Linked DNA regions of Homo sapiens. The protein of the gene in region 1 interacts with the protein of each later gene in a biochemical or structural test. Each region holds a gene or a part of one and is shown in the gene's direction. Other genes may lie near its edges. The genes, in order: HACE1, CASR, UBE2L3 and SNTG2.

The links.
Region 2: the proteins of HACE1 (region 1) and CASR form a complex in vitro, tested with the Homo sapiens proteins (one study listed by BioGRID).
Region 3: the proteins of HACE1 (region 1) and UBE2L3 form a complex in vitro, tested with the Homo sapiens proteins (8 studies listed by BioGRID, with this or other methods).
Region 4: the proteins of HACE1 (region 1) and SNTG2 form a complex in vitro, tested with the Homo sapiens proteins (one study listed by BioGRID).

What each region holds. Positions count from the first base shown.
Region 1 is NC_000006.12:104,779,891-104,786,924, reverse strand, and holds part of HACE1 (E3 ubiquitin-protein ligase HACE1), read left to right. Parts: intron 1-1,605; coding exon 1,606-1,940; intron 1,941-2,439; coding exon 2,440-2,508; intron 2,509-2,751; coding exon 2,752-2,839; intron 2,840-6,467; exon of another isoform or gene 6,468-6,572; intron 6,573-7,034. UniProt on the Homo sapiens protein: E3 ubiquitin-protein ligase involved in Golgi membrane fusion and regulation of small GTPases. Acts as a regulator of Golgi membrane dynamics during the cell cycle: recruited to Golgi membrane by Rab proteins and regulates postmitotic Golgi membrane fusion.
Region 2 is NC_000003.12:122,186,668-122,193,701, forward strand, and holds part of CASR (extracellular calcium-sensing receptor isoform 2 precursor), read left to right. Parts: intron 1-7,034. UniProt on the Homo sapiens protein: G-protein-coupled receptor that senses changes in the extracellular concentration of calcium ions and plays a key role in maintaining calcium homeostasis.
Region 3 is NC_000022.11:21,619,703-21,624,557, forward strand, and holds the end of UBE2L3 (ubiquitin-conjugating enzyme E2 L3), read left to right. Parts: intron 1-1,812; coding exon 1,813-1,967; 3' UTR 1,968-4,332; downstream 4,333-4,855. UniProt on the Homo sapiens protein: Ubiquitin-conjugating enzyme E2 that specifically acts with HECT-type and RBR family E3 ubiquitin-protein ligases.
Region 4 is NC_000002.12:1,261,843-1,268,876, forward strand, and holds part of SNTG2 (gamma-2-syntrophin), read left to right. Parts: intron 1-52; exon of another isoform or gene 53-179; intron 180-493; exon of another isoform or gene 494-576; intron 577-5,522; coding exon 5,523-5,729; intron 5,730-6,229; coding exon of another isoform or gene 6,230-6,253; exon of another isoform or gene 6,254-7,034. UniProt on the Homo sapiens protein: Adapter protein that binds to and probably organizes the subcellular localization of a variety of proteins. May link various receptors to the actin cytoskeleton and the dystrophin glycoprotein complex.

The sequences.
Region 1 (7,034 bases):
TTGTATAATCTCCTTCCATGGCGGTCTTTAAAAGAAAGATTATTTCTTTCCTTGAAATATTTTAAAGGTGAGTCTTTCTGTAGCACATGGTGTAGTTTGTAGCATTCTGTAATCATGTCAGATTCAAAAAGTGAGATAAACTTTTATATTTATTTGCAGAAGGATAGCTAATCATTCTCAATAAGAATATTTAAAATAGTGTAGGATGAAGGGATTGTTTAACCACTGTACCACTTATAAACTATTAATCTTTATTTGGGATTAAAAATATCCTAGCAGGTTTTTTTTTTTGTTTGTTTGTTTGTTTTTTTTTTTTTTTTGGAGACAGTATCTCACTCTTTCACCCAGGCTGGAGTATAGTGACATGATCACAGCTCACTGTAGCCTTGACTTCCGAGACTCAAGCAATCCTCCCCCTTCAACCTCCTCAGTAACTGGGACTACAAGTGCATGCCTGTGTACCCAGCTAGAATAATAATAGGAAATAGTTTATTCTCTCCTCATCTTTTTTTTTTTTAATAGAAAGGTGTTAATCTTTACTTGGAATTAAGAATTTGCTACTCAGTATTTTTTTTTTTTTTTTTGAGATGGAGTCTCGCCCTGTCACCCAGGCTGGAGTGCAGTGGTGTGATCTTAGCTCACTGCAACCTCTGCCTCCTGGGTTCAAGTGATCGTCCTGCCTCAGCCTCCCGAGTAGCTGGAATTATAGGTGTGTGCCACCATGTCTGGCTAATTTTTTGTATTTTTAGTAGAGATGGGATTTCAATTCACCATGTTGGCCAGGCTGATCTCGAATTCCTGACCTCAAGTGATCTACCCACCTCGGCCTCCCAAAGTGCTGGGATTACAGGCGTGAGCCACCATCTCCGGCCTGCTAGTCAGTATTTTAATAGAAGTTTGGTAATTGTATCTCTTGTTTTAAAAAAACACTAATTATTAGAAATGGATTGTGTCTGTAAGTATATGTATATACATAAATATGCCACATTTTGTAATTTCTTGTCAAAAATTATCCAAATTCTAGGAATTATATGTAATGAAAGGAGCACAGTAAAAAAGCTGTTCATTAGGTTCTTTAGGGATTCTCATTTTTTAATTGAAAAAAGACATTTGTTTAATTGAAAGTTGTTGACATTGATCATATTAATACAGAAAATGTTGAGTGATTATACTTAGGGGTTCTCATTTTTTAACTGAAAAAATCTTATTTGTTTAATTGAAAGTGGTTGACATTGATCATATTAATACAGTAAATGTTAAGGGTGATTATATATAGTAGTAATGTGTGCTTTTAAAACTAAACATTTGAAAATTAAAAGAAGAAAGATTGTGAATTTTTTGTTAGATTTAGTTTTTCCTTTTTATTACAAGGAATACATACATACAAATTAAATTATTGCCATAAATGAAGAAATTGTCATTTATGTAGCATTTGTATAATTTTATTACTTACCTTTAGGCATTACTATCACGTTAACTTGGGAAGATAGAAATGACTAGAGTAAATTTTCTCTTCTATAATATTTGTCTAGTTGTGTTTTGTTTTTTTTTTTTTAATCCTGTAGTTTAAGAATGATGTTTAAAAAACACTTTTGTTTCTCTCAGCCTCTGGAATTGCTTTGGCACTCGTTAGATGAATGGCTAGTTTTAATAGCCACAGAATTGATGAAAAACAAAAGAGACTCAACAGAGATCACTTCTATTTTACTGAAACAAAAAGGCCAAGATCAAGATGCTGCTTCCATTCCTCCATTTGAACCTCCAGGACCTGGGAGCTATGAAAATCTGTCCACTGGCACAAGGGAATCTAAACCAGATGCTCTTGCAGGGAGACAGGAAGCCAGTGCAGATTGTCAGGATGTTATTTCTATGACAGCTAACCGGCTAAGTGCTGTCATTCAAGCTTTTTACATGTGCTGTTCTTGTCAGATGCCTCCGGGGTAAGAAAGTTTTGGCTTATTATTTTTTTTTTCTCTGATAGATGATGAAAAGCAGTGATACTTTTGTAATTTCAAAAACAACAAATAATAATTTGTTGATTTAAAGTTTTCTCCTTGTTTTAAGATACTCATACTAATCTAGATCTAGTAGGGAATATTTAAATATTAAGCAGTATATATTATTACTTTGTAGAATGGTGAATGTCACCTTGTATAGGATCTCTTAATTATGTATTTGAAATGTGTAGAGCAGAAATGCACCAAATTTCAAGATTTTTAAAAAGTCACTTGTTGATATCGTCTGCTGATGAGAAGTTAGAATCATTTTACAAATTGGCTAGGCATACTTCAGTTTCCTAAACTTACAAAGAAGATTCAAAACCAAATTCTTTTTTTTTTGGTTTAGAAGCCAGTCCAGTTCAGTATATATTTATCAAGTTCGCTATATTATATCACAAACTTTTGCCTGTGTATTCTGATTGATGTTTTCCCCCCACAGAATGACTTCACCTCGTTTCATTGAATTTGTCTGCAAACATGATGAAGTTTTAAAATGCTTTGTTAATAGGTAAGCTTTCTGGGTTTGTGGAGTACCCTGCTAGCCTTTCCTCTCTTTACTTACAGTTTCATCTAAACAGAAAAAATACTATTTCTCGTACTATTCAAAATATGCTCAATAACAAATGAAACTTTAATAGATATGGATTATTATGTGTTTTTCTTCTGTTTCAGTGTCAGTGTATCTGAATTTGCATTTCACTTAATGCTACTCATTCTTCCTGTCCATTTAAACAAAATATTTTTCTTTTAGAAATCCCAAAATTATATTTGACCACTTTCACTTTCTCCTTGAATGTCCTGAGTTGATGTCAAGATTCATGCATATCATAAAAGCACAGGTAGAAATTTTTCTTCATCTTTTTATTCTATCTAATGAAATTAATTTCTAAAATTCTAATACTGTTTAGTGGAATAATTATTACACTTCAGACATTCTGTTGTAAGAGGAATGATTGCATGTTACTTTAATATGAGGAGTAAGTTTTCTTCAAGAAATATGTACTGAGTGCCTACTATGTACAGAGGTCTGTACAAAAACAACAGAACACATTGCCACATTTCCTGAAAGGAGCTTAATGAAACTCTTTAGTTCTATAAGGCTGATTGTCCTTTTGAAAAGGATTTTAGCCCCCAAATACATTTGGGAAATTACATAACATATGCCCTTTGGAAATTTATAAATCACATTGGCAGCATGTTAAAAGGCTTTGAGAAGCCCTTCAGTAAAAATAGTGATTTAGCTTTGTTAATCCTCCTAACTTATTTGACCTGACCACCTTTCCCCTACCAGATGTGTACCTGTTCATTCCATACATCTCATGTTACATGAAGCTAGCTGGAGGAAAGCTTGTTTTGCTCCTTACCAGCTATGTGAACTTTGGGCACGTTTCCTAATATCCTTGAGCCCTTGGTTTCTTCATCTACAAAATGGAGATAATGACAGCAGCCTCATAGAACTATTGTCCAGAATAAATTGTCAGGAATGACTGTGATATATGCTCAATAAATGGTAGTTGTTTTGGAGATAGAAAACTTACTTCCCTTCTCTAAGAGGATTCTAATTCAGTCTGGCTGGGGAGATAATAAACATATGTATAAAATAGTAACTACAACATAACCTGGATCTTTAGGAGTTTAAGGGAGGAAGAGCTGGCTCTGGCATCTGTAGTCAGGGGAAATTTCAGAGGAGGCAGATTTTAAGTTACCTTGAGAAAGCTTGAAAAAATATGCAACATTTTGATGGGAGTAAACAAAGAGGGAGAACTTTCTAGCCACCATGTGGGCTGGAGCATGTAGACCGAAAAGTATGTAAAACTGCAGTATTGCAGCAGAAATTTTGTGTTGATAGGAGCAAGATAGAGTTATGGAAAGGTAGATTGAGGTCATCCAATGATGAGCCTTGATTTCCAGATTGAAGAATTTTCTTTGTTTGCTAGGCTGTTAGGAGCCACTGATACCCTTGCTTTAGGAGAATGGCATAATTCTGGCAAAGTTTTAGAAAATAATTTGCCAGATATGTAGGACAGACTGTAGGCAATGGTTTGGTTAGTAGTTGTAAGATAATAAATAGGATAAGTGGTTTTTAATGTCTTTAGGGACACTTGTCCTTTCAGAAGTTAAGCTATGAACTAATTTTTATAAAATTATACATAACTATATAGAGGGATCTTTTGACATCTGTTTAATAATGATAATGTGAAAGAGAAGGCAGTAATAATGACTTACATTTACTGATTTTAGGTCAGGTACTATGTATTTGCTTCCATGAATGATTTTATTTTCTTAACCATTGTATAAGATGGCTACTCTTTTTTTTGTAAGCTGAAGTGGTTAAGTAACTTGTTTAAGTCATTCTGCTACTAAATGGGAGAACCAGAATTTAAAAGTCTGTCTGGTTCTCAAGTTCAATTTCTTTCTTTATTTTATTTATTTATTTTTTTTGACACAGGGTTTTACCTGTCACTCAGGCTGGAGTATAGTTGATCTGAGCTCACTGCAACGTCTGCCTCCTGGGCTGAAGCGATCCTCCCAGCTCAGTCTTTCAAGTAGCTGGGACTACAGGTGCATACCACCACACCTGGCTAATTTTTGTGTTTTTTGTAGAGACGGGATTTTGCCATGCTGCGCAGACTGGCCTTGAACTCCTGAGCTCAAGTGATCCACCTGCCTTAGCCTCCCAAAGTGTTGGGATTATGGGCATGAGCCACCACACCCGGACAAGTTCAATTTCTTAACCTACACTGTATGATACTGTTCTGGGGCAAATGAGATAATAGGTGAAAGAAGATTTTAGTTTTTGAGAGATAGTCTGCTGTTTTTAATATAGGTTGGTGCAAAAGTAATTGCGGTTTTTGGCAGTTACTTTTAATTGCCAAATTAAAATTGTCAAATTAAAATAGCAAAAACCGCAATTACTTTTGCACCAACCTAATACTGTCTCTGCTTTTTACTTTCTATTCCTTTTTCCCTTCCTGGACAATTTAGTCAAAAAACATCTGTATTAGGTATCCACTTTGTTGACCCAGAGAGGGAGGTGTTTGTTGCCTGACTAGGGTGAGGAGGGTGTCTACATGTGTAGTGGTGGCCTAGTGTGGGGTTTTGGAGTTTGGATGTGATTAAGAAGTGTGTCTGTGTAGAAGAGGGTCCCAGTGTGAGTCATGTGGGTTAGAGTGGCATAAGGAGGATGTCCATGTTGGCGGTGGTTGCAGCTGATCAGTGCTGTCTGATGGAGCCTCAGTGGGATGCAGGGGCCATGTCAGTGATTGGAGATTGGTTACATACCAAGGGAGTGGGGTTGCAGGTTGATCAAATAAGCAAGTATGAGAGTCTAACTTCTCGTTGTTGGAGAAAGGAGTTACAAAATGGAGGAAATTAGAAGGAACCTTGTGTTGAATTGGAGTTACCAGTTTGAATTTAGTTTTAAATTTACATAGATACATGTAGCAAACCTGGCACCCAGCTCTTGGTCTCTCAGTGCCATTCTCAATGAACCAGGGCTCCTTGGAGAAATGGCTAATTCCAGGGCTAGATCAGGGAAAGTATAAAATAAGCCTGCAACATCTTATTGTGTAAGAAAGTAAGGAAGTGTTCAAAGACTGATGGGGTTATGTTAACATGACTCGGAAGACAGCTTGAATGGACTCCCACTACCAAATTTGGAAGAATTTGAGCATCAAAATAAATAATGATGGCAACATAAACAGGAATCTATGAGTCTGTACTGAAAAAAGTTAATGAATAAATGGAAAGTCTGATGAAGGGTAGGATGATTACACAGTCTCAGATTATCTCCCAGCAGAATAATTGCAAAGAGAAAAAGGGTGCCTTACAGTAGAGAAGCTTAGCAGTGATCAAAGCAGACATAGCAGTGTGCCAGCTGATAGGATGCTCTGAGGACATCATGGCATCACTTCTGTGGTATTCTTGCCAAGGATACACACCTTAAATCTAATCAGGAGGAATCATCAGACTAAATACAGTTGAGGGACATTCTACAAAATTAACTGACCTGCAGTCAGTTTTAAAGACCTGCAGTCTTTAAAACTATCAAGGTTATGAAAATTAAGAAAACATTGAAGAAATGTACCAGAGTGAAGGAGACAGGACAGGACAATTAAAGGCAGTTCATGAATCATTTTGCAATAAGAGGACATTATTAGAAAATTGGCAAGACTTGAAATGGGATCTGATGTAGTAGTGTTATCAGAGTTAATTTCTGATTTTGATGGTTGTTATCTAGTTATAGAGGAAAATTCCCTTGTTTGTAGGAAATAAATGCCTAAGTGTTTATAGGGGACTGGACATTATATTGGCAAGTTGCTCTCACATTAGAGGAAAAAAAAATACTTTGTACTCTACTGTACTTAGAAGTTTTCTGTAACTTGGAGATTGTCCTCCTCTAGAAAGTTAAAAAGAACAACTACCTCTGCTAAGGGATTGACTTCTTCTTCTGTTGGTGGTTTTCAGGTGGCCAGTAGTTAAAGGGAGAAACATTTTGTATTGCTGTACAAATGCTATTAAGAGGAGCCTCTATAATCAGTCCTGTTTTGTGAATTATTTATGGAAATGCAGGTACTCTAGAAAGTTTACATACAAAAATGTACCATTTGGCTGTGTAGGTGTTTGTATGTGTGTGTGTGTGTTTGATCTGAGCTTTTGAAGGTAGCAGTTTGTACCTTTTAATGTTCCACTTGAATTACTTGAAAAGGTTCCATTTGTTTTTATTTCTTGGTTCACATTTCATAGATAAATGATATAGTTTAATATCTTATAATGGGCAGTAAGTTTTCTTTTAAATAGTTATTGACAATAATTTTAACATTGCTGTGAATGATAATAAGAACAGTATCTATTTATTGAGCATTCTAGGTATTGAGTATTAGAGCATTAGTATAAATGCTTTTAATGTATTTTTCTCTTTGGTAAAATGGGGACAAAAGTTCCTTTTTCTCATAGTGTTGTGAGGATTGTATGTGGTAATGCATTGTAAAGTGCTTCAAAAAGTACCTGGCTTATAGGTGCTTAATAAATGAT
Region 2 (7,034 bases), on another chromosome or scaffold:
GAAAGAAACGAAGTTCTTTGAGGGTGTATACAGACTGAACTGTGAGACCAGGGAAGCCTTTCTCAAGGAGATCTCCCTTGAGCCAAGATTCAAAGATGGAGAGGAAGGTTGAGGATATATTTGTTGTTTACGTAGGACCAGAATGTATCCACTAGGAATGGTGTTTGGCTGCTAGTCATTAAGAAGACTAACTGCCATGTGACATTTGCTGTACTACATGAGCACATGTGCCAACTTGGCATTTTTGGCACTTTGGGAAAGAATGCTTTGTTATCACAGTATCAGTTGCATTGTCTTCAGTTGGTCATGGTTTGCCATTGCTGTATTCTTGCTTTATAATTAAATGTTTCAATTAACTTTATGCTTATCCACTTATTTTATTGTGTACAATAAAATGTGTGCATTGCAGTTCAAATGTGAATCATCCATATTCCCATTAATAAGGTAAATATATATATAACCCTGATACCAAATGTGGTTTATACACTGACTGTTCAATGTTATCACTAAATAGATTCTTTAGGTGAAAATAGGTGTGGCAGGTGGGCTGTAATATCTTCCTTCCATCCCTAGCCACTGCTCTAATTGGGAGGATGCCAGAATTTTTCAATTATTCTAAAGCTGCATGATCCTTTTCAAAGATTCATATATAGCTCTTTAGTAAAGAAAAAAAATCACCAATTGCACTGAAGCAACATATTTAACATTCAAACAAATATTTTTATTCATTCGACAGTGTTTACAGTAAACCTTGTATGTGCTCAGAGCTGTGCTAGACAGTATAATTAAAACTGATTACTAGGACAGAGTCCCAACATTTAAGGAGTTCATAGAAGTCTGAGAGGGAGTCATGCTCATCCATGTGCAGGTAGTATTGTGTTCATTACAATTAAAGCATAATCAGGGTACGTTCATGTATAAGGGAAGGGAGTGGTCAATTCTACCAAAGGAGGAAGGGTCAGGGAAAGGTTCTTGGAGGAGGTAACGCTTGAGTTGAATCTTGAAAGATGAGGAGTGACACCAGGTAGACAAAAGAAGAAGGTATAATGGGAGAGAGATTCATGTGCAAAAACAAGCAATTAACAACAACTAAACCAGAGGCATGAAACATCATGTCAAGTTCTAGGACCTGCAAGTGGTTCAAGGAGCTGAAGCATAAGGAGCCAAGAGGTAGGGAGGCTAGCAAAGTGGCTAAAGTATGCATGATGGGGTCACAGAAACAAAGATTTGAGTCGTGGTTCTGCCACTTTCTAGCTGTGGGACCTCAGTTAAGTAATTTAGCCACAGTAATTAATGGTAATAAAGGTAATACTTTCCTCATAGGATTGCTGCAAAGATTCAGATAAGATATGCACAGATTATGTACTCAGGAATTGTTGGCTATTCATTATTTATTCTAGGGCAAAGGAAGCTGCTGGAGGGTTTTACATAGAGGAGTGACTCGTGAGCATTTTTGCAATCACTCTGGCTGCATGTGGATGCTGAGTTGAAGGGGGCTCATTTGGAACAAAGTAAATATTTAGAGACATTATAACCATTTAGATAATGGTAATGATGGCCTGAACCATGGCGGTCATGGCAGCAGCCATGGAGAAAACTAGCTAAATGCTTGAGATATCGTCAAAGTAGACTCCACCACAGAACTAAGTTACTCATTAGATGTGGTCAGTGAGGGAGAGGATTTGAAGAGGTGAAGCCTGAGATTCTGGTCTGTTATCCTTTGACTCTGTCATTCAAGTGATCTTGGGATAGAAAAGAAGAAGTGAGTATCAACCAGGACTGGGGATCAGGAATCTGGGAAGTGCTTGTATACAGAGAACTTCATGATCGGTACCAAAAAAAATGCTATCTCTGATTCAGAAGAGCCCTTGACCATTTCTGTGTCTGAACATAAAATAGGATCAGTTAATCCATACCAAATATAATATCCATCTTCTCTCTCTCTCTTTTTCTCTCTCTCTATTTCTGGGAGGCTTTCAGTTCAAAGTGGGTGGACATTAGACTTCACCTATTTGTCATTGCCTTGAAGTGACAGATGTACCCTCACTCCATGCCTGGTACTGTTGGTTCAACTCTTGCCTGACACCAGCCTGATTCACTTTTTTCTCCTTTTTCTCATGTCTTCTCATATACAATAAGCACTAACTGAGGTGTCCACATGGACTTTATTAAAGTCCATGAGAATTAGAGGATTCAGGTAGTTCCTATTTCATCATGCAATGCAGTCTTGGTAACCACAGTATCCATTCATAAGGCAGGAAACAATACAGACATGTGTGATAGTGTTTGTTGAAAAGCTGCCGAGAGCTTTATTACTGTTTCCACCAAAGGTGGATACTAGGAAGTGCTGATTAAGGGTGTGCTTTTGGATTCAGTTGCTCAAACAACTGTATTATTACTCAAAGCCACAGAAATGAACATTATAATTAGGCAGAGCCAAATGAGTGAGATGGTCAAATATGAAATGAGGAAAACAAGATCAGCCTCTGCCGTGGACAGTCTAGTTTGGTGGAAGGTGGGCTTTCTATCTCTGACCTTCAGCATGACATTAACCTAGCTGAGCCTCAGTTTTTAGTGGTGGACCTTCCTTTGAGATCTGTGAAGCTAAGGTAATGTCTCCTTCACAGGGCGGTTGTGAAGTTTAAATGAGTTAAATGTGCTAAACACAATGTGTGGCGTATGGTGGGTGCTTAACTAGCTGATATCCTTTGGCTCAGTTAATCCCCAGGGTCTTTCCTCACATTGAAAAAGCAGGAAGCATGCAGATTTCTTGGGTTAAGTAACCTGAATTAATTTGTTTTAATGTGTTTTTCATCTATGATTGATTTTTTTTCCCTGGGAACCAGGGTGGAAACCTGTTTTCCTCCACCCTCAGTGAATGCTTATCAGTGATGATGGGGGCAAAGGTAATATGATACCTGCAGAGAGGAAACTAATTTTAGCCATTCTTCCTTCAACAAGTCTGTCACACACATGCAAGTAAAATTACTAACAAATAGAAAAATTGAGTAATTTGACTTCTTCCTCCCATATTTTCTGTTGGTAGAGTTCCTATTAAGCATATTTTTTGTTTATCTTTTGTTTTTCATGTAGGTAGAAAGAAGCAGGCTCAAAGAAATTGCAGTTGTACCCCTCAATAATTGTTTGTCCTTAGGAACAAAGTTTTGCTTTTCTCCTCTTAACAGAAGTTGATGGTTGAAAGAATTATCATATCTTTCATATAGTTTTTCTAAATATTCTATAATTTGACATAAGCTTTTAGTTTAGTTTTGTTCACCAGTTGGGTCCCAACTGCATGTCAGATGTTGAGTTGGCACTGTGTACTCAGAGACGCCAGCTGTGGTGCCCAGATCTCCAGTCTGGTAGCCCTTGTGAGAGAGACTGGGTAGGAAGAGAAGTGGGGTGGAGGGTGCAAGCTGATCTTAAACAGCTGATGGTGGTGGGAGTGACACTCAGGCTGAGGCTCTCTACCACAGCTTCAGGCTTCCAGTCCATCCAATCATGCACTCCTTTGGGTCAGGATCTGGGTCTACTCATCCCAGTGCCCCAAGCCCCTGCCAGTTAGAGCCCTTATGTGCTAAGTGCTTGTCGATTAAGAGATTCGGGGAAAGGTAGTGAGGAGGCTAGGTGATCTTCTCTTTTCACACTCTTAAAAATGAAAATAGTCCAAGTAAAGTTTATACTCCATGCAATTATCAACCAATTTCCATTCATCCTCATCTTTTGAGAGGCAGTACACTGCAGTGGTAATAGCCTAGGGCCAGGAATTAGACTACCCGAGCTTGTATCTCAGTTTGACAGCTCACTAGCTTCGTGACCTTGGGCAGGTTGTCCAACCTCTCTATGCCCCATTTTCCTTATCTGTAAACTGCAGTTAATTAACACTACTTACCTCTTTGGTTGTTAAAAGACTTATATGAGCTAATACACGTTGTTAAAGCTCATCAAGCATAGACAGCGTGTCTTATTCAACACTGAAACTCCAGAATCCATCATAGTGCCTGGTACACTGGAGGAGCTGAATGAATCAATGAATGAATGAATGAATGAACAAATGAATGAGTGACTTAGTGAATGAACAAATCTCAGTATATAGACTGGTATAACAGTCAGCAATTGACAAAGCACCCTCTTAATATTAATTCATTTGATTCCCAGAACATGTCAGGAGATAAATAAGGCGGCTGAGCAGGGAAGGTATTATCTCCATTTTACAAATTAGGAAACCAGGGTACTGAAAGGTTGGCTTGCCAAAGAAAGTGCAACTATAAGTAAAAGATCTGGTTAACGTTGCTGATTCTACTTACTCCTAGCTCTCTGCTCTTCTCAAGATTCAGCTGCCTCTCCACCTTATACAGATTTCACAGAACTCAAAGGATGTCCACCAGCAAAAATGAACACACATAGCTTATTTAGCTTTCTGAAGAAATGAGTTTCTTACTGTAAATACACTCAGTCAAGTTAAAACTTAAAGTTGCAACTTGAAGTTTGGAATGTTTTTATGTTTTGGAGAGGGGAGCAGTGGATATTTTGTAAGAATGAGGAAGTTCTTTCTAAGTATAAAAGTAGCAGAGAATCATGAAGGAAAATATTGATAGATTTCATTACATAAACATTTAAAATACTTGGGTTTTTTTGTTTTTTGTTTCATTTTGTTTTTTTGAGATGGAGCCTCACTCTGCCACCCAGGCTGGAGTGCAACGGTGCGATCTTGGCTCACTGCAACTTCTGCCTTCCGGGTTCAAGCAATTCTCCTGCCTCAGCCTCCCAAGTAGCTGGGATTACAGGCGCCCACCACCATGCCTGGCTAATTTTTGTGTTTTTAGTAGAGACGGAGTTTTACCATGTTGCCCAGGCTGGTCATGAACTCCTGACCTCAGGTGATCCACCCACCTCAGCCTCCCAAAGTGCTGGGATTACAGGCATAAGCCACCATGCCTGGCCAACGTTTAAAATACTTGTATATAAAAGGTTATAATTAAATTAAAATGAAAATAAACTCAAAAAAATTTGCAACAAATAAGCCAAAAGGTTCAAATTTGTGAATATAAAGAACTCATAGAATTTAATAGGAAGAACATTAAGACCATGGTTTCAAAAAAGTAGCCAAAGGTTGTAATGGTTTTCAAATGAAGACAATCACATGGGTGGTGAAACATACAAATATTTTAACTTTTCTTCAATAAGGGAAACATTTTTACAATGATATACCAATTTCCTTATCAGGAACATTAAGATGTTGAAGATAATGCTAGTGGAGTGGGGCACAATGGAAACTGTCATAACAAATTACCTGGAAAACAATTGCCTTAAAACTGTTCACAGCCTTTGACCAAAGAATTTCATTTTGGGGATTGTATCATTAAGAAATTATCAGAAATATGGTTAAAGACTTATGCCCAATGATGTTCTTCACAGTGAGAATTTGAAACTGAAACACAAGAAAAAGCCTATGAATCCAATAATAAGGGAATGGTTAAATACAGTGTGGTGGATAGGAAGCAGCATAGGCTAGCAGCTAAAAGCATGATTTTGAGTCTTACCACCTGGATTCAAATTCTGGCTCTGTCATGTAACTGTCATGTAACTCTGCCCTGTAACTTTGGAACCTCTCCAGGCTCTACTTTTTTCATCTGTACAAAGGGGACGATAAGAGTATCTAACATATAGGGCTGTTATGTGGCTTAAATGGGTTCATACAGGTCTACACTTCCAAAATCTTCAAAGCTCTAAACAACTAAAGGTTTTATGTAACTTAAATAGCAACAAAACATCAGTGAACTGACACAGATCTACTTTATTCCATTTACTGTGACTGTATTTGGCAGATATAATCAATGTTAATCCCTTTCCACAGTTTTACCTTTCTTGCAGAATCTCCAAGATTCTCTTTATGAATTAATAACAATCTTACACATTTGAAAAAGACTAATTTTGAAGTCAAAGCTAACTAGAGAGCAGGTATATGTATTTTGAACTAATCTCTTGGCCAAGAAACTTTCCCAAATCTTCCATCCCAGGGCTCTCAAACTTTAAGGTGGGGAATATTCTTAATGCATAGATTACCAATGTCTATCCCCTAGAAAATCTGATTAAGCGGGTCTGGAGTGGGGGCCAAATGTATATAGTTCCTGCGAGCTCCCAGGCGATGATGGTAAGGCTGATCCATGGATCACCTCTTTTCTCTGCTCTTCTCACGATCCAGCTGCCTCTCCAGCTTATACAGATTTCATGGAACTCCTGTCCACCAGCAAAAATGAACACACATAGCTTATTTAGCTTTCTGAAGAAGTGAACTTCTTACTATAAATATGCTCAGTCAAGTTAAAATTTAAAGTTACAACTTGAAGTTTGGAAAGTTTTTAACTTTTGGAGAGGGGAGCAGGTAGCCTCACTCTAATCCACTCCTTCTTTAATTTTCATCACCCCTCACATTGTATCTTTTTATTTGAACCTTTTCATTTCTGAAAATCTTCGACCTTTTTTTTTCATATTATCATTCTCCTATTCTTTCATTTCTGGTTTTTTTTTTGTTTGTGTTTGTTTGTTTGTTTGTTTGTTTGTTTTTTGAGTCTCACTCACTCTGTCACCCAGTCTATAGTGCAGTGGGGCGATCTCAGCTCACTGCAACCTCCACCTCCTGGGTTCAAGCAATTCTCCTGCCTCAGCCTCCCAAGTAGCTGAGATTACAGGCATGCACCACCATGCCCAGCTGATTTTTGTATTTTTGATAGAGACAGGATTTCACCATGTTGGCCAGGCTGGTCTCAAACTCCTGACCTCAAGTGATCCATCTGTCTTAGCCTCCCAAAGTGCTGGGATTACAGGCATGAGCCACCATACCCGGCCCTATCCTCTCATTTCTATGGGGTGCTTTTATTCCTAGAAATAGTAATGTAATAAAATTATTTATCAGTTTCTGAGTACCTACCATGTGCCAGTAACACAGTTAAAAATGGAAAGTTTCTTGGCCAAGAGATTAGTTCAAAATACATATACCTGCTCTCTAGTTAGCTTTGACTTCAAAATTAGTC
Region 3 (4,855 bases), on another chromosome or scaffold:
TACTTTTGAGACAGAGTCTCGCTCTGTTGCCCAAGCTAGAGTGCAGTGGCACGATCTCGGCTCACTGCAACTGCCGTCTCCCGGGTTCAAGCGATTCTCCTGCCTCAGCCTCCTGAGTAGCTGGGACTCTAGGCATGGGCCACCATGCCTGGCTAATTTTTGTATTTTTAGTAGAGACGGGGTTTCACCATGTTGCCCAGGCTGGTCTTGAGCTCCTGACCTCAGGTGATCTGCCTGGCTAGCATTTGCATTTTAATCCATTTCTTGTAATGCTGAATGAACAATATGAGCCCTTAATAAAGGAATTGACCAGGTGCAGTGGCTTCATGCCTGTCATCCTAGCACTTTTGGGAGGATGAGGCGGTAGGATCACTCAAGCCCAGGAGTTTGAGACCAGCCTGGGCAACATAGTGAGACCCCATCTCTACAAAAAACTAGGCCAGGAGCAGTGGCTAACACCCGTAATCCCAACTACTCTCAAGGCCAAGGTGGGAGGATTGTTTGAGCCCAGGAGATAAGACTGCAGTGAGCTGTGATTGCACCACTGTACTCTAGCCTAGGTTAAAAAAAAAAATTAGCTGGACGTGATGGCATGTGCTTGTAGTCTCAGCTACTCAGGAAGCTGAGGCAGGAGGATCATTTACACCCAGGAGTTTGAGGGTACCGTGCAGTAAAGTATGATTGAGCCACTGCACTCCAGTCTGAGTGACAGCAAGACTGTCTAAAAAAAATAAGAAGGAATTTGTGGCATCAGCAGTTCGGAGAAGAGGGGCACTGTTTTACAGTGGGAAGGAACATTCTGAGGGTGCTGGTCCTGACAGGGTCAGGGGGCAACTGTGGCAAAGTATGTGAGGAGGTGTGGGTAGCAGCTGCTTCTGATTCCCCACTATCCTTCCACCCTGGGGCACGTCTGGGCTACGGCACCTAGGGGGAGTACTGTGGCACCCATCAGAGCCATCAGCGTGACATCTGCCTGTGGTCTTGACAATGTGATGCGATGGCGGTTGTCAGCTTCCCATTGGCTGGCCCCAGTGACCCTTTCTAGAGGGTTCAGAAACTCCTAAGGGTCTTCCAGAGTTGGGTCATTGCGCATTGACAAGTGCAGCGCCATCACATACCCTTCTCTCTAGTGCCCACTCAGTCACCTTAACCGAAACTTCCCTGAGCCGAGCATGGTGCTGGGTGCTGGGCTGATGCAGGGAAGTTCTACCCGGTCCTGCCCTGAAGAAAGTGACCCTGTGTGCATGCATGAGAGTGAGCAGTCAGTTCAATACTAGGCCTCCTATCTCCAGAGTACACAAGAGGACTGGATTAGCCGGGCATGGTGGTGCACGACTGTAGTCCTGGCTACTTGGGGGACTGAGGCTGGAGGATTGCTTGAGGTCAACCCAGGAGGTTGAGGCTGCAGTGAGCCAAGATGGTGCCACTGCACTGCAGCCTAGGTGACAGAGTGAGACCCTGTCCCTCCTCCCCAACCCCCCGCCAAGAAAAAAGGGCTGGGAGTGACTGAGGGCTAAGACCTCCCCAGGTGTTAGGTCAGGAAGGCTTCCTGGAGGCGGAAGCACATCACTGTGAACAATTATCCACTGTAGTGTTAGCTATTTGTTGTCCATCAGTGTCTTCTAATCACAGAGGAAAGATGAGTTTTCTGGCAGTCAGAATTTTGGATAAATAGGAGGCAGCTTTGGCTTAAAAGCACATTAGCTGTAAATCAGTTGTAAAGCCAGAGTTTTGTTCCCGGATTAGCTGCCTCTTGCCTGTGCCATTTCTGAGACTGTGTTAACCCCCCATGCCTTGTCCTTCTCTTGGCAGTAATCCAGTCCCTCATAGCACTGGTGAATGACCCCCAGCCTGAGCACCCGCTTCGGGCTGACCTAGCTGAAGAATACTCTAAGGACCGTAAAAAATTCTGTAAGAATGCTGAAGAGTTTACAAAGAAATATGGGGAAAAGCGACCTGTGGACTAAAATCTGCCACGATTGGTTCCAGCAAGTGTGAGCAGAGACCCCGTGCAGTGCATTCAGACACCCCGCAAAGCAGGACTCTGTGGAAATTGACACGTGCCACCGCCTGGCGTTCGCTTGTGGCAGTTACTAACTTTCTACAGTTTTCTTAATCAAAAGTGGTCTAGGTAACCTGTAAAGAAAGGATTAAAAATTTAAGATGTTCTAGTTCTGCTCTCTTTGTTTTAAAAATCACTGCTTCAATCTACTTCAAAAGAATGGTGTTTCTTTTCTTGTCCAATTTTATCCAAAATCTTCAAGTTACATTTAACCCATAAGGTTTAAAAAAAAGGAAAAAAAACGGTTGTGGTTCCCTTTCTTCCCTACCCTTGCCACTCCCACTTTCTGGCACCGAGTTTATTTTTCACTTACTTACTTCCCCAGACCCCGGGCTCGCCTCCACAAAGGAGAAGAGACTGCCCTGGCGGTCCTGGTGGCTTTTCTTAGCATGTGTGGCACTGTTGCCCAGTGTGGGAGTTGGTTTAAATTCTCCTGACTCCAGTTTATAACATCCTTTTAAAAAATTTAAAAACAAACAGCCACACCCCTCCTCCAGTCCTTCTCCTCAGTTCTTGTGTGAAACTCCAGCTGATGTTACCACAGTAACATCAGTTAATTGGGCAAGCCCTGATGTCAGTGTGTGTAACTGACCTCTGGCCTGGCCTGCACAGAGAAGCCCTATAATCACAGGTCTGTGGTGGCCCCGAAATGGGGGGCCTGCTAGTCAGGAGGATGCTGTGCACACTGTGTGTGATGAATCTCGCCAGAAAGGCTCCTGAGGTCCCAGGTTGGCACTTCTCCCTGCAGCCATTGTAGAAGATCTGCTGGTCCTTGCAGGCAAAGCTACAGCCAGAATGTCCGTTTGAAACTCCTAGCTCATCTGTCACCGAGCTTCATCCGAATGTGCCACGGAGCTTGCTCTCCACTTCCTCCGTGCAGTGGCCCTGCCACAGCCCTCCCTCGGCACACTTTGACCCTTTGTAGGATTGGAATTAGCAGGACTCGGCTATTTAAAGCACCAGTCTGGGGTCGCCTGGGCCCCTGCTGACCCCCTCCTCCAGAGCAGCCAGCCCAGCCCGGGAACAAGACGGACTTCCTCTCCCTTCGGACTCACAGCCTTTGCAGAGTCAAGCTCCACTTGAAGCTCACTCAGTAATATCCTTTCAATGTGTTTTATATTGTTTTGACTGCCTTTTTTTGTAGAAATAAAAATTGACCTTAGAATTTATCGTCAGATAAACTTGTAAAGATTTGAATATTAATGTCTTTTCAAGGCAAATGGGATTGTCCCCGCACTAGTAGAGAATCCATGTCGCTCTGACACCCCAAGGAAGCCGACGATCCAAATGCCGTGTGTCACCAACCCCGCTTCTGCCACTGGCGGCTTCCCTTCTTGGCTCTTGGGGGGGACTAGATCCTGTGGAGAAGATGACTTAAACTTTGCTTTTTGTTTTAATTTTAATTCTATAACTTGAGATCTTTCCGGGGCCTACAGGCGTGTAAGACAGCTTGGTCTGGTCTGTGCAGAAGTGGGGAGTGATGGGCAGGTTCGGCAGCCTAACATTGTTCAGGCGCATGGCCCCTGCGGTGTGTACACGAACTCGGCTTCTTTTGTCCTAGGTACGCCAAGGGCAGGTTTCTGGAGACTCCCTTGTGCCCGGGATGGCAAGGGCACCGGGCTGGCGTTTCCACATCTGTCTTCATTAGCAGAAAAGTGATGATGGATTTTATTTCACTCACACTCCAGTTTGTAATAAAATGCCAAATTCTGTCAGCTATCCAAACAAGCCACCATTTGTTCTTGTTGCTTCTCTGGATCCAGAAATGTTGCCATTCTTGGAAACTGTCCCATTGCTTCGTATTTCTGCCAACGTAGCTCTGCCTGCCTGTCAACCCCTCACTGCACTCTGCTCATCACGGGAGGATACCTGTGTGCCGGCAGCCCCTCAGGGACTCTCAGCCCTGGCACTGGCACCCCAGGGTTGGCCCCGTCAGCAGAGGCTTGGCTTTCGAGCCAGTGGGTGTCTCTCCTTTGGGCCTGGGCGGCTTGCTCCTGCCAGCCATGCCTTCAGGGTAGGCTCTGAGCAAGCTGGCGAACAGCCCTGGCTGCTCCAAAACCAAAAAGCTGGGTCCTCTGGAGGAGGGGCGAGCTGTGGAGCAGCCACCCACTGCTGCCCCAAGCTCACTCAGGAATTCACACCCGCCTGGTTTCTTGAAGTGTGCTGGGTCCTTCCCTCTGCTCCCTACTCCCCACCACGGCAGAGAATAGGCTTTCTAAGATGCTGCGATCCCGTTCTGCTGCCCGTAATAAAAATGCTCTCAGACACTGGTTAGTCGTGTGGGTTTCTTCCTTCCTGGGAGCGGGCAGTGCCAGGGGCCTATGCTCTTGGAGATGGGAGGGCTGGCTGGGGCCCAGGTCCTGGGGCTTCTGATCTCTCTCCCCATTCCCAGCCTCTCCAAAAGAGGTACATAGAAGTGTTCCTGCCTCCCTAGAGGGAAGGAGATGAGGTATAATCAGCAAGAAAGCCGGAGACTTCAGACAGTCGGGGCCTGCAGAGGGCGCTCTTGGGCGTCTCGTTGAGGGGACAGGGACTAAAGTGTGGGTGCATCACTTACATGCGTGGGTCATCCTGGAGCCTCCTGGGAGTGTTAACAATCCATGTTTAGAAGAGGCAAACCTGCGGTCCCAAGAGGTCACAGAATTGATAAGGGTGTGCCTGTGGGTGGAGCTGGGCCATGTCCATGAATGGTGCCAGCCAGAAACACTCTGAGTCCCCAGTACAGCCCACTGCCAGGGTGCTGCGGCAGTGGTGCTAACTCAGCAAGGGCTCAGCCAGACCCAGGACTTTTTT
Region 4 (7,034 bases), on another chromosome or scaffold:
GACGAGGACTTTCCAGAAGCCAAGCAGAGACAGGGATGGGGCCCAGACTCACGTGGCTGCAAAGCTCATCCCGAATCCCGCTCTATTCCACGTGCTAGAAGCAGTGGTGTTCCGGGAGCCTGTCGCGAGTGGCCGTTAAGAGTTCTAGAACGTGTTCTCCACGGATCTTCGGGGTAGTCCTGTTTGGATAATATCAACACTGAGAGGAAGAATTCCTAAATGATTTTCCTAAAGCCATGTCAGGACAAAACTGCACCAGAGTTAAAGGCGAAGAAGGCAAGAAGACCTTATTCAAGTCTATTATGATAGGAGAGAGAGAGAGATTCAGAGATTCAACTCCACTGAAACAAAGGATGAGAGGGTTTCTACAAGTTGGGATGGGAAGGAGATTAGGGCCATCATTGTCTGTTAATTGGCCTCCTGCAAAGAAACAGAGAGCTTCCCCCATCTTCATGACAGGAGGTGGTTGCACAGCTTAGAGCCAAGCACCCACCAAGGCTGGGCTCCATCCTTCCACAGGGACAGGAGATGACGCCATCTTGCCAGTGATCACATTTTGAAGGGACAGCTCCCAGCTCCTTGAGAAAGACAGTCCTGGGTTGTACAGCCAGCAAGAGACTTCTAGAAAGATTCAGGTATCAAATGGCAGAGAAAGAACATACAATAATACATTTTCTAAAGCAAATGCTCTAAAGATAGGGAGTTCCAGGTCCCAGAGGTGGGAAGAAGCCGGGTCAAGTCTCAGTCCAGACGAGGAAACCCAAAGGCTCAGTCCAGACGAGGAAACCCAAAGGCTCAGTCCAGACGTAGTAACCGGAAGGCTCAGTCCAGACGAGGCAACCGGAAGGCTCCGTCCAGACGAGGCAACCGGAAGGCTCCGTCCAGACGAGGCAACCGGAAGGCTCCGTGCAGACGAGGCAACCCGAAGGCTCCGTGCAGACGAGGTAACCGGAAGGCTCGGTCCAGACGACGAAACCCGAAGGCTCGGTCCAGACGAGGAAACCCGATGGCCTAGCCAGCCGCTGACTGACTGTTGACGGCAAGCCGCTGACCTTGAACTTCAGTGCTCAGGGTTTCCAGTCGTATCAACACACTGCGATCCACAAGGTCTGAGTGATTGTTTTTAAAGGAGCTACAGGAACTATCTGGGGAAATGAGCTATATATGAATAATTAATTTTCCTTTTGTAGAACTTACAACACATTCTTTGTGAGGCTAAACAGTGGAAAAACAATCCCTTGCTTGATCAAGCAGTCTCACTCCTCAGAATTGAATCTAAAGAAGAGTCCATTACAACACTGAGTTCAGAGGAATCAAAGAGCTATATGTATGAGAATGTTTAAGGATATTCCTTAAATTAATGATATTTGAAGAATAATCAAAAGACCATTGAGAAATATTTTAAAATCTTACAACATATTTTAAGTAATTCTACTATAAATTTATACAGTTATATGTACAAATTCACATTGCATGAAAGAGAATATTAATTATTGTCCTATTATTAAGGTTATATTAATAATTATTGACATATTTTTAAAAATCAGATGACAAAACATAGTAATAAGTTTATCTTTTAAATTCCCTTTATTGTTGCTATAATTGTTTCATAATAAATATAAATAGAAAAAATATGTAATTTTAGAATACAACCCTTTTTGTTTTTTTCAGGAAAGGGAACATAATAAGATGATGTCTTGCAGTCCTAGGTGGGGGGTGGGCTTTCTTCAGTCGTGGGGGTGGCTGGAAATGCTGTTCTGGATATTGCCAGAGCTGACCCTGCCAGGAAGCCAGGTAGCTGCAAAGCAGACATCAAATCGACATGTACGGCCTGGCTCAGCATTGCCTTAGGACGTGTGTCTTTATGAAAGCACGTAGTGAACTCATGTGAATCCGGGATGTGAGCCCTGCATGCTGGCCACTCTGTCATGTGAAGTTATGACAACATTTTTATCACGATTCCATTTCACAGCTCAAAAGTGGAGGCTCTGAGAGAGTGAATTGCTCAAGATCAAACAGCTAATACTGGGCAAAGAAAGGCCTCAAATTTTATCTGACTCCAAAACCTGGTGTTCTTCTATTATAATACACAGCTGCCCAAATATAGCAAGTGATAGGAAAGAAACACAATTGACCTTTGAACAATATGGGCTTGAACTGCGTGGGCTCATTTGTATGCCAATTGTTTTCTATAAGTATGTTGGAAAATTTTTTGAAAACAATTTAACAATTGTAAAAACCTCTTAAGACAAACTGTGTAGCTTAAAAATATCAAAACATTAAGAAAAAGTTAGAGATGTCGTGAATTCATACAATATATGTAGATACTAGTCTATTTCATCATTTACTCCTGTAAAATATAAATCAATCAATTTGGCACCATCTGCAGTGGAGAGGAATATAGACAAAGGTAAAGATGCAGCGTTCAATCATTCCTGCCCATGGTTAACTGGAGCACATAGTGTGACATGGGTTTCTGAGTAAAATGTCTTAATCATCCCTGTGGAAGCAATTTCTCTCTCCAGTAAATTGCAGAGCATGGTAACGAGTGATCTCTCAGAGTTCTTGTGTACCTTCCCTCCTTCGTGTTGAGTCCAGTAACGTAAACCTTGAATAACACCCCGGGACCCACACGAAGTGCCACAAGGGATGTTGCAAGTGCCCCAAGAAGCGGGAATATCACAGCATTGCCAAAAAGCTGAATTGTTTGCTGTGCACCACAGATTGAGGTCTGCAGCGTGGTTGCCACCATTTCAGACCATTCATCTCATAAACAGATGATGTAAACTTATGGTGTCAATAAATACAGTGCAGTGCTCTAAGTATATCTTCTCTTCCCTGTGATTTTCTCAATAACATTCTCTATTCTCTAGCTTACTTTCTTAATTCATTTATTTATTTAGAGATAGGATCTTGCTGTGTCATCCAGGCTGGTCTTAAATTCCTGGGCTCCAGTGATGCCCCTGCCTCAGCCTCCCAATTAGTTGTGATTACAGGTGTAAGCCACTGTGCCTGAATTCACTTATTCTATTCTAAGAATGTAGTATATTATACGTATAACATACAGAATATGTGTTAATTGACTGTTCATGTTATTAGTAAAGCTTCTGATCAACAATAGACTACTAGTAGTTAAGTTTTAGGGGAGTCAAAAGTTATGCATGAATCTTCAACTGCGTGAGAGTTGGCGCCCCTAACCCCTGGGTTGTTCAAGGCCCAACTATAATGAGCCATTCAATGGGGGATGTGCGTTCCCACATAAATATCTTCCAAAAGTTTTTCTTTATCAGTTTTGACATTTAAGTTCAGTGGATAAAGAGATACTTTCTGCACCATAAGGTCAATGATGAACATGTTGTTCTTGGTTTGTGACGTGTAACCCTATAGGTTCCAGGTATCCCAGCTGAAGGAGACGATCCAGAGGGCCCCAGAATTAAAGTGCAGTTTCTGTACTCAAGGCTCATTTAGGGTTAGCAACGTATGCACACTACACACATTCACGTACACACACATTCATGTTCACATACATTTCCACACATACACATGTTCATGTGTGCACACACATTCTCATGTGCACACATACACACACACATGTTCTCACGTGCACACACCACAAGGCATTTGATGTCTGGATGATGCACAGGGATAAATGTGCAATGCTCTCCATGATCAGAGGGTCATCCTGCAGAGCCATCTGCGGGGCCAGGAGAGCCAGGGCATCCCCCCGGAGAGTCCAGAAGGCCCACCTGAGACACACCAGTCGTAGCTTTTACCTCAAACCTGTGCCTAGAGTGCATGTGTCAGCATATTTCAAGTAAAACTATTTGGCCAACTGCTGAGTTCATGTGGATTTTGGGACTGGACCTTGAGCGTAAGTGTGAGTGGGGACTGTCCAGCTTGGCTGGTTGGCACAAGTGAATGGAGATATCTCAGAATCATGATGGGAAGACCCAGCAGGTGGGCAGCTCCCCTTCCTTTCTGCTGCCATATGCAGGGCTGTGGGTGAACACCACATTCTCATTCAGGACTTTGGAAACCCCAGCCCAGGTGTCTCCCCTTGTTTCCCTTCACTGGGGAGAGACTGGTGCAGCAAAATTGATGTTGGGGTGCAGCGTCCCAGGAAGGTGTCTGGTGGGGGCTCTTCAGGGTGGATCTGTGGACCAGTAAATGAATGGGTGAGCTGAGAACTGAGGTGGGTCCAGAGAGAGACAGACAGAGACAGAGAGAAGGATAGAGAGAGACAGAGAAACAGACATAAAATAGAGAAACAGAATGACAGAAATGGAGAGAGAGAAAGAGACACAAAGAGAGACAGAGACATAGAAATGGAGACAGAGAGAGAGAGAGAGACAGACAGAGACAGAGAGGTGCCAGCCAGGTATTGAGTGCGCGTTCACCATGCACCTCCATGCTGTTGACCTAGTAATTGTGACAACTGGGACCCCCAGTCTTTCTCTTCTGCCCTTGATAAAATGAATCCCGAAGTGGGGTGCAACCTTGCAGATGGGGGAAAGAAGTGGGGAGCTCCCCAGGCTGCTCCATGCAGCACAGGCTGGCAGCATCCGAATCGCCGAGTGATTAATAGACGTGCTGTAAGTAACTTACATCTCTGGGTTAAACGATTAACCAGAAATGGAACAACATCATTACATCATTCCCTTTGTCAGGCCTTTGGGTTGGCAGAATGAGCTCCTGGGTGGCCGGGTGCCTTGTCATGCTTCAGAGGCGTTTTGGGCACTCGGTCCTTTATCTCAGGACAATGAACCCGCAAGGAGAGGAAGAGCCAGTAATTCTATAGAGACTCGGAGGCGCAGGGGGCACGCTTAGTTAGAGTGGTGGTGGTATTTTCAGTGTTTTCTGGTTTTATGATAAACACAAGCATCAATGTCTCAAGACTTTCATCTTTATCTTTTTTTTTTTTTTCTTGAGACAGGGTTTCCCTCTGTCACCCAGGCTGGAGTGCATTGGTGGTGTGATCTTGGCTTTCTGTAACCTCGGGCTTCTGGGCTCAAGCCGTTCTACTACCTCAGCCTCCCAAATAGCTAGAACTACAAGCGTGTGCTGCCACACCTGGCTAATTTGTTGTATTTTATTTATTCATTTATTTTTGTGAAGACAAGGTCTTGCCATGTTGCCCAGGCTGGTCTCAGACTCCTGGGCTCAAGCAATCCACCCACCTTAGTCTCCCAAAGTGCTGGGATTACAGGCGTGAGCCACCACACCCAGCTTCATCTTTCTCTTCACCGTAAAACAGGAAAGTGTGTGGTGACCAGTATTTTAAGGGAAAGGCACTTACAGAGAATTAAGCATTTGACAAAATTTATTTACAGATATTTGTCTGTGGACCACTTCCGCACCAGCTGTGCATGAGAGGGCTCATTGCTCTGAATTTGCCTCCTTGTCTGCACCCAGGAGACCGTTTCCCAGATCACGCAAACGCTGCCTTCTCCCCACACCAGGGCCCTCAGCATGGGAATGACCTTCCAGCGCTGCACGTTTCCAATCCATGCTCTGTTTTTCAGTTCTGGCTCACAGAGGACTGCTGGTTGCAAGCAAACTTGTATCTGGGTCTTCAAGATTTTGACTTTGAGGACCAGAGGCCCTATTGCTTCAGCATCGTGGCCGGCCATGGGAAGAGCCATGTTTTCAACGTGGAGCTTGGCAGCGAGCTGGCCATGTGGGAGAAGTCCTTCCAAAGAGCCACGTTCATGGAAGTTCAGAGAACCGGGGTAAGTGAACAACTCACACTCTTCTCACCTACACCTGCTCGGGTGTCTGAGACATAGCATTGGGGAATATGTAGCAGTTTATCGGGGGAAAAGAGGAATCTTCAGAAGGTGAGAATCTTTCACCGGAGCTACTGTGTGGAAATGATCGTTCGCACGGAGTCATGCGCTCCGTGGATAAATATGAGCTGTAGTGGAAGGGAAGGGGAGGAGAGGATTTTGTGTCTGTGTCTACATTGAATGTGAGGAACGGGCTGCATCGCTTTCCAGGAAGGGACTCCACCGATGTGGCGCTCAAGTTCCTGAGAAGTGATGACACTTCTAGCCTGTGCTCCGGGAGACAGAACACCTAGCTTACAAATGAGTATAATGTGTCGTGCAGTTACTTGGATGTTTGTAATATTTTAAGGCACTTTAATGGTTCTTCCTCTCAAACTTGATGGTCCGAAGGAGAATATAAAACAGCTTGTGTGTCTGAATTGCTTTTCTCTTCCTGACAACAGCAAATACATCACTCACAAATTTGAATGTATACCATGTGAAGGGATGAGGAAGAATGCATTATAATCCTCCTTATCCTAAATAGCGGGATGATCCTTCAGGGAGGATGTGTGCTGCAGGAATGAAGAGTGACAGGAGATAAATGAGGCAGCGCATCCCAGAGGAGCTCTGACTTCACACCAAAGTCCAGGGCTCCCGCCTGGCTGAGCGCGGAGAATGCTGAGTGTGAACTTAGTAACTAAAGATGGCTACTTCATTTAAATATACATATATACCTTGAATGTGAAACTATTCTGTGTTATTTATCTTTCATTCACGTTGTCAAAATGTATCCAGGCTCCTTGGCATGCCATCACAGAGCACGAAGCTTCCCTGTAACTAATGCACACTGAGATCTCTTAGTCCACAGAATGAAGTCACACCCAGATCTTCATAGAAACTGATGCCAATGTTTATTCTCATTTATCCCAGGCTGCTGTGATTTTCCCCTCAAATTGGGCACCCTAAATTGGAATTATGGTTGATTCCTGATGCTTAAAGTAACCTTTATATTTGAAGCATCCAATTCATTAACCATTATAGAACATTACATGCTGGAAAGAAAATTACTAAACATAGGATCCTTCATCTCAGGGACTTACTCAAATGTATAGTGGCATTTAGCCACTTAGAAACCATCAGCACTAAAGGTTCAAGTCGTTAAAAGGCAAAGTGAAAGAGCGTTTCTGGGACAAGGTGACCTTTCTGCTTGTTTTCTTTAGATGATAGCAGTAATCATTTTGCTTTCAACATAAATACCGGAGAAGT